Linked DNA regions of Homo sapiens: region 1 is reported to be linked to region 2. Evidence: microRNA targets listed by miRTarBase, many of them from high-throughput screens and not tested one by one. Region 2 holds a microRNA gene; the other region holds the end of a gene's coding sequence.
Evidence for each region. Region 2 holds the annotated microRNA hsa-miR-32-5p (UAUUGCACAUUACUAAGUUGCA, at 1,227-1,248, opposite strand). A microRNA usually pairs through its seed, bases 2 to 8, with sites in the 3' UTR of a target mRNA and lowers its output. Matches are read on the target gene's strand: a 7mer-m8 pairs with bases 2 to 8, a 7mer-A1 pairs with bases 2 to 7 and ends in A, and an 8mer does both.

Region 1 (4,325 bases), not on the chromosome of region 2:
ATTTGATGCAATTATCAATGGTGTCTTTTATTTTAAAAACAATTTTCTGGCCGGGCACGGTGGCTCACGCCTGTAATCCCAGCACTTTGGGAGGCCGAGGCAGGTGGATCATGAGGTCAGGAGATTGAGACCATCCTGGGGAACACGGTGAAACCCTGTCTCTACTGAAAATACAAAAAAATTAGCCGGGTGTGGTGGCGGGCGCCTGCAGTCTCAGCTACTTGGGAGGCTGAGGCAGAAGAATGGCATGAACCTGGGAGGCAGAGCTTGCAGTGAGCCGTGATCGCGCCACTACACTCCAGCCTGGGTGACAGAGCGAGACTCTGTCTCAAAAAAAAAAAAAAAGAATGTGTTGCTTGTAGCTGGGCCACATGGTGGCACATGCCTGTAATGCCAGCACTTTGGGAGGCTGAGGTAGGGGGGTTGCTTGAGCGCAGGAGCTTGAGATCAGCCTGGAAAACACAGTGAGACTTCATTTCTACAAAACAATAAAAAAAATTAGCTGGGCATGGTGGCATGTGGCTGTACTCCTAGCTACCCAGGGAGCTAAGATGAGAGGATAACCTGAGCCTGGGAGGTTGAGACTGCAGTAAGCTATGATCACAATGTCAGTTTTGTAAAATATAAATGACCTCAAACTCTCCAGTTAAAAGTCAATCTATTGGCTGGGCGCAGTGGCTCATGCCTGTAATCCCAGCACTTTGAGAGGCTGAGGTGGGTGGATCACCTCAGGTGAGGAGTTCAAGACCAGCCTGGCCAACATGATGAACCCCATCTTTACTAAAAATACAAAAATTAGCCAGGCATGGTGGTGCGTGCCTGTAATCGCAGCTACTTGGCAGACCAAGGCAAGAGACTTGATTGAACCCAGGAGGTGGAAGTTGCAGTGAGCCAAGATTGCACCACTGCACTCCAGCCTGGGTGACAGGGTGAGACTCAGTCTCAAAACAAACAAACAAACAAACAAAAATCTATCATCACATTAAAAAATTTCAAATTTCCAGGCCAGGTGTGGCTCATACCTATAATCCCAGCACTTTAGGAGGCCAAGGCAGGTCAGTCACTAGAGCTTAGGAGTTCAAGACAAGCCTGGGAACATGGTAAAACCTCATCTCTACTAAAAAAAGAATTAGCTAGGAGTGGGGGTGCACACTTCTAGTCCCAGCTACTCAGGGGGCTGAGGTGGGATGATTGCTTGAGTCTGGGAGGCAGAGGTTGCAGTAATCCGAGATTACACCAGTGCACACCAGCCTGGGTGACACAGTGAGACCATGTCTCCAAAAAAAAAAAAAAAAAAGAAGAAGAAAAAGAGAAAGTCCAAATTTCCTGTTAGAATGTACAAAGTACTATATAAGATGACATATTGTGTGGAGAACAGTGAGAAAGTGTAGCCATAACACAGGTTTTAAAAAAAAAAAAAAAAAAAAGGAGGAGAGCTGGAATGCATAAGTAGTTGAGAAGAAAGAAAAAGAGACCACAAAAAAACAGAGATAATTTGGAAATAAAAGCAGAATTCCTCTTCAGAGAGAGTCAGTTGTGCAGCCTGGGTAGAGAAGTCCTTTCTCTGCATGCAGAATCAATGCCAGGTCTTCATCCTGGATATTTCCAATCTCTTACCTGGAGCCACAACTTCACTCCAAAAAGAATATTTATTGTTAATTATGGAACATCTACTACACATCTGGCACTGCGTTATGTTTCTTCACTTCATTTATATGCCAAATAGCCCTATGACTTATAAAGCCTCCAAAGTGTTTATCTGAACAAATTGCCCAATAGAGTCAATAAACTCAATTACTCAATTAAGTGAAAGAAACAATAACAAAAAAAGTTGGCTCGAATAGTGTTCTCTAATAATGGAAAAATGGAAATGTACTAATTAAGTACAATGAAAATTAATACACTCACTGTGGAATTATTCACATCTTCAGATTATTTTTTAAGCACCAATAAGTTTCATAAAATCATTATTATAATCCCTGAGAAGATCACATAAGAAATTCTTCATGAATTTTGGAACAAGAAAATTATACGTTAGCTCTAGCATGAGCAACATAAAAGTAAAAACAGGAATTTCATGTGGAAATTCTGCAAAATAAGATTTTAGAGAAATGCCTTCAATACAAAGCAGAGAAAACAGATTTGCCTTCGACATTTTTGAGGTTTCTAGTTTGCTAATAAATTATCCATACTTTTGAAATTATGTTTGGTTCCAACATTTTTCTCTTATTCTGAAAACAGGTATGCACTTACTTCAAACACATTACTTGCTTCATAACTGTCTTACACCTAACATTTATCCTTAGAGTAGTATATTTATGTATTTATCTCCATGTAAACCAAAACTAAAAGCATGTATATGTTTTGCAGGCCAGAAAAGCCACATGTTAAAAGGAAAATGTAAATAAAATTTTGTGAATAGTCCTTCAAGATTCAGAAATACACGGTCTTTGATTATAATCCTATATAGGCTTTATTATAGCCTTAATAATGACACTGTCATTACAAAAAGAGCAAACAGAATGAAGGTGTAACGTGTGGGAACAATATTTTTCAAATTATTTGAAGTTTAATGCCACTGGGAGAAGGGATCATTAGAGATACTATTCCACCATGTTACCCACTATTGTATTGTTACCATTTGTTACCTACAACCGTAACTAAGGTGAGATAGGTTAACGTTGGTGGTAGGATACGCATCACTTAATGTACAACGGTCCAAAGACATTAAAACAATGTCTTATTAAAACAAATTAAGTTCAAACAGTCTAAAAAGAGCATTTCAAAATCCACTGAATTTTATTACCTTAATGTGCAATAGGAAAAACAACTGACTTGTAAAACTCAAATGTTTCTTTCTTAAATATAATGCAGAATAGTACTCTGAAGACCTATCTCATGAATCACTTACAACCCTATTATAAGACAAGTACAAAGAGCCTCTCCAGTTAAATTTCTTCAGGAAGCTTACAATGCAATGTCCATAATCTTCCAAAGAAAAGGATATGAACAACACCCACCCGAATATAGAAGAAACTCTCACAGCTTTCATGTAGCAACAGTAGGCCTCATGCCTTCACATAAACACTAGAAATGAAGGCATGGTATCAAGTGATTTAAGACTTGAATTACATAAATATGTGATTTTCAAAAAAGCTAAAACTCTTTCAGTGCACCGAGTATACTTTATTATTATGTTGTTATTATTATTATTGAGAAAGGGTCTTGCTCTGTTGCCCAGGCAGGAGTGAAGTTGCCAGATAGCAGCTCACTGCATCCTCAACCTCCAGGCTCAAGCAATCCTCCCACCTGAGCCTTCCAAGTAGCTGGGACAACAGGCATGTGCCACCAAGCCTGGCTTTTATTTTACTTTTTGTAGAGATGAGGTTTTGCCATGTTGCCCAGCCTGGTCCCAAACTCCTGGGCTCAAGCAATCCCCCGACCTCGGCATCCAAAAGTGCAGCAACTATAGGAAAGAGCCACCGTGCCTGGCACCAAAAGGTATACTTGAAATGTAATTATAACTTCCCCAAAAGGTGAATCTCCTACTTACTTTAACTTAACTTTGAATTATTCTCTATAACCAACACTCAGATTTACAGTAATGTCTGAAAGTGTCAGTGACTTAGTGCTTTTTACTATGAATTCTTGGATGTGTTTTGATGTAATTTTTGATTAGACATTTTTTCACATTTACTGCATCTGTAAAACAGTTTTTAGTGTGAACACTCTGGTGTTTTCTGAGGTATATTTTTTGAACAAATGTTGTTTCTGCATTTATTACATTTGTAGGGTTTCTCTCCAATACAAAGTCTTTGAAATTGAATACAGTTTGAGCAACTGGAGGGTTTCCCTCCAGTATAAATTCTTCTGTGTACAGTAAGAGCTGTGATATAAGTGGAGGTGTTGAACCGGTCTATTTGTATTGTTCGTAGCCTAAACATTTTAGTGCACTCAAAGGCTCATAGACTGTAAATGGCCTTTTGACAGTCATTACATTTGTAACACTCTTATTCAGTAAAAATATTCTGCTGTGAAGTTGTGAATAGGTATTAAAGACTATGCCATATTGTTTAGAATTGTAGGGTTTTTCTCAGGTATGAGTTTTCTCATGTACAGCAAGTTGTGCAGAGTGGTTAAAGGCTTTGCCACATTCCTCACACTTGTATGGTTTCTCTCTGGTATGAATTGTCTTATGTTTAGAAAGGTGTGAGCTCTGGCCAAAGGCTTTGCCACATTCTTCACATTTGTAGGGTTTCTCTCCAGTATGAATTCTCTTATGATTAGTAAGATATGAAAACCAGTTAAAAGCTTTGCCACATTCA
Region 2 (4,402 bases):
CACCGTACCTGGCCTCATTTCTTTTGTTGGGAGCATTCTGTATCTTCCTTCTAGCTACTTGAAATGATATAATTTATTGTTGAACTACAGTCATTCTACAGTGCTGTAGAACATTAGAACTTATGCCTTCTAAGTAATTTTTGTATCCTTTAACAAATCTCTCTCTACCCACCCCTTCCCAGCCCCAACCTCCCTTGAGAGGTCACATCTTCCCTTTCTTGATTAATCTGCCCTGGAAACCCAGCTCCACAGGGTGTCATATAGCAACCTGGCTGACATTAGATTTCCAGCATGAGGGGAACGGCCGAGCTGCTGAAGGGCACAGGGGATGAGCTGCTTACGTGGAATTCTTCCATTCTCACCCTCCAAAACAGTGGTGAAACACAGAAACATACAATGACAGCATCACAATAGATCATCTGGAGGCTATGGTAGTAGTAAATATTAATTCAATATTTTCATACAGTAATACATGGTTTTGTGTCCTTGACAATGCCTAGTGATTGTGGATGCTTACTCTAATGCTAACTAAAAAAATAACAAGGGGTTGTTTCAATTACATAGGCAAATAGTAAACGTGTATTTCAAAACTAGTTCCATTATTAGCCCACTAAAATGAATTTAGCAGTTTTCGAAGCATCACAATGAGAAAGTAAAAGACACATTTTTAAGGTAATTTACCTTGGAAACTTAAGTTTATGAGATGAATCTTTCATCAGGTAGGTTAAGCATACCTTTACTGTCTTGATTATTATTTAAGAACTCCAGTTAATTTAATTTCCCCAAATATGCATAAGAGATTTCTGCTTCTCTATTCCAGTGTTGGGAGAGATTTCTTCAAATAAATGAAAATACATTTTCTTACAGCTTTACATTCTTCCTTATACATTTAAATATTGTTTATACTCTTAAATCAATGAGAATTTGTAATAAATATTTCATTTGCTCAAAGTAAAAAATGGAAACACTGATTTACTAAATGATCATTGCTGACTTTTTTTAATCCAAATACTTTTAATTCTCCAAAATTGGAAGGTACCGATGGGAAGCATGTTCACTTTCCAAATGAGAATCGCATGGCATACACACTGTCTTATCTAATTCATCAGGACACCCACCCACTGGCACTGAAAAGCTGTAATCCCAGCAAGCAAGAGCCATACCCGTGTGCATGCACTCATGTGAAAATATCACACACACTAAATTGCATTGAGGCCGTGACAACATGCAACTTAGTAATGTGCAATATCTCCACCAGAGCAAGCAGAATGGGAGCATCAGGGAAGAAGGGTGTGATGTATACATTCAGGAGACAACATGCTGCTGAAGAGAGGAAAATGGTCTGGGGATAAAGGATGCATGCCACTGACTCAAAACTTCATGAAATGAAAACCCAATTGCAAATGTATTCAACTGAGAAGAATACTTATTCAGAATCAAAATAATGAGTAAGGTTCAAAACTTCAATGAGATAGTGATCATAAAGAAACCACATACTTCAGAAGGCAAAGCTTCACGAACAGACACTATCACTGTCTGGTCATGCAATTAACCCCCAATTTCAATTCCATTTTTGACTTATTCACAGATCATATAAATGAATGTAATGATTTCCACTTAGCTGCAACATAGATGATGATTAATGACTGATGCTTATAAAAGTTGGTATCACTGATATTTGTAGGCTAAACTGCACTTTGAGGACATTACAATATTTTCATAGTCATTCATAAATTATAAATAACCACTTATTTTTCCCTCAAAATCTTTTTCCATGAAGAAACATATTGCCTCTTCAACACAAACCTTCAGGATGAAAAATCCAACAGGAGCTCTTAGAAAGAGAACTCACTACCATCTTCTCCACAGGAGAAAGCTCTTCAGAGGAATCTCTGTAAAATCTGTACATTTTAAGTCTTGAATTTGAGCCAGTAAAGAAACAGCCCTAGGAACTTAAACTGCAAAAAAAACACCTTGAATTATAGCCTTAAAATTACATAACTTGATATAGCTTTGGTTAGAAAAATGTCTCAGGCCATAACCCATTCTTTAGTCTGTACCATATTTATCAGACTCATAAAAATCTATCAATTCTGAGAACCATTAGATTATAGTTCTGGTACCAAAGGTTGTTAAAATTTTTTCTGTATTTAAAATAAGGTGATAATAAAACAAATGGTTTTTAAATGCCAGTATACTATGGAACCAAGACATAAGCTACTGTTATAATACATAATTAGTGTATGCACTCCCAAGAAGGGAAGTCGAATCTAATTTGTAAAAGACTGATTTCCTCATATCGCTGTAGATGACAGCACTCTTTGTAATCTCAAATTCTCTCCTGAGCCAAAGACCTGAATTTCTAAATGCCACCCTCTTATGTCCACAAATATAAGTCATGATCTTCCCTAACCAGCTCCTCTTGAAAGAAGGCATCATGGTGTAACAGAGTATGTGCTTTCAATCAGCTGAACCTAGGTGTGACTAACAGCTTTACTTACCACTGACTGGCAAACACAACAGCTAGGAATTAAGTTTAAAACAAAAAAGGTGGCATATTTGGTATGAAAAAAGGTGACAGACATTTAGAGGATGGTCTGCTGTAAGAAAGCAGAACAAGAGAAAATTCAAAAGCTGTGATGTGAAAATAGAAACATTTTTCTAAGAATAAGAGTCAGTAACAATGAAGATTACTTGAGGAAAATGGAAGCATCATCTTTCTTGAAGTTCTTTATGAACAAGGTAGATATTTTTCTGCAAAGCTTGGCTTAAGCCACACTGACTGGAGAATTCCTACCAGCCTTTGATATGGCTGCTACAATAAATAGCTTTACCCCACTGGGAAGATAAAAGATTAGCCTTCCTTTTTGGTAGAGCATTTGCAAAAGCTTTTCTGAGTCAGAAAGATATCACCTAGATAAACAAAAGATTATCTATTGCTAGAATTTTCATCATTTCATTTATTCAGCAAAGATGATAGTCAATGGTCATATAGGACTTAGGAGGGAAGCTATAGCTGGTACTTCCTTCGAAACAGCTTCACCCCAATTGCTGTTACACTGGATAATATACTCCCAAATCTGGAATCTTTATAGATGGCCCCTGTGTGGATACCTGAGGACACTATACAGGTGTTAAGAGCATTTTTTTTAATCCCACTTGACAGCCAATCGCGGAAACAAGGTATTGGTGAAGATCTTACCCAGGCCTTGCTAGTAGGAAAAGGGGAGAGAACTTAGCAAAAGTTCTACAGACATTGTATTTTAGGAGCATGCATCCTGTTTGAATGTAACTGAAGGTTTTCTAACAATCAAATGGGATTCTCCCTAGCTATTACATGAACACAGTGAAAAAATATACCAAGATCAATCAGGTGCAATTATCAGAGAAAAAAAAAAAAATCAAGATTTCTGTGGAAGACTAGTTCCAGACAATATTTATTAAAAGTATGTGGAGACAGAAATGCCAGCCAAAGATTTGCTATTCAAGAGATGCTTAAGACCACCTGGTTAACAACGTATTAGAAAAAGGAGCTCTAATGGACAATAGGAGGGTTTAATTTGAGACGTATTCATAAGAAGTAAAAATGTAGTTGAGTCTTGTTAATGAGGAATGATGACAGGGATTACAGGAGGGGCTGAGACAGGCCTGCTCTGCAAAAGGGTCCTCCCTACCAGAAATGATGAAGAGGAAAAGATAAAGGAAGCCAAGAGCCAACGACCTGGAAAGAGCTTATACAGAGGAAAAGTTGAAGAAGTTCATTCAGAAACAAAGCCTGTAAATACATGGATGCCAGAAGTCATAACGAAAAAGTTTCTGGCCAGAACCTCCAGTGCATACAGAGCCTATAACTTAAGAGATAAACAACGATTCTGCATTTCCAGTATCCAACCTACTCCTTGCAGAGGGCACAGCTTGGCTGTAGGACAGAGGAGAAACAGGAAGTCCACCTACTCTCCTTCTGGAGCAAAGCTAAAACTCCTGACAGCAGAGGGTTCTGAAAGAAGTTGGAGATGGGGGTGGTGGAAGCGGGGGTTCTCTTAAGCAAGTGACATGATGCTAACAGCTAGTCTAAGATCCTGCTGATGGAAAGCTGATGGAGATAGACCATTACATCTTTGTAAATCTCAGGTTTGAGAGAAGGTTATCAAAACTGCTTTGAATTGTTAAATTTTGTTTTGTTTTTGAGATAGGGTCTTACTCTGTTGCCTAGGCTGCAGTGCAGTGGTGTGACCAAGTTCACTGCAGCCTCCATCTTCCAGGCTCAAGCAATCCTACCACCTCAACCTCTTAAGTAGCTGGGACTACAGCTTTCACACCACCATGCCTGGCTAATCTTTTTTATTTTTAGTAGAGACAAGGTCTCGCTATGCTGCCCAGGTTGTGTCAAATTCCTGAGCTC

Region 1: the mRNA of ZNF695 is a reported target of hsa-miR-32-5p. The part of its 3' UTR that is shown has no 7-base or 8-base seed match.

Annotation. Positions count from the first base shown.
Region 1 is chr1:246,982,874-246,987,198 of GRCh38, forward strand. It overlaps ZNF695 (zinc finger protein 695), which reads right to left. Exons shown (of 4, transcript NM_020394.5): 4 at 2,450-4,325. The coding sequence ends at 4,094. All of the region lies in intron 4 of ZNF670-ZNF695 (ZNF670-ZNF695 readthrough (NMD candidate)), which reads right to left. Among named protein-coding and RNA genes, the nearest start is that of ZNF695, 23 kb to the right of the region's middle.
Region 2 is chr9:109,045,046-109,049,447 of GRCh38, forward strand. It overlaps MIR32 (microRNA 32), which reads right to left and starts at 1,253; the gene lies at 1,184-1,253. The region is part of intron 14 of TMEM245 (transmembrane protein 245); the gene reads right to left.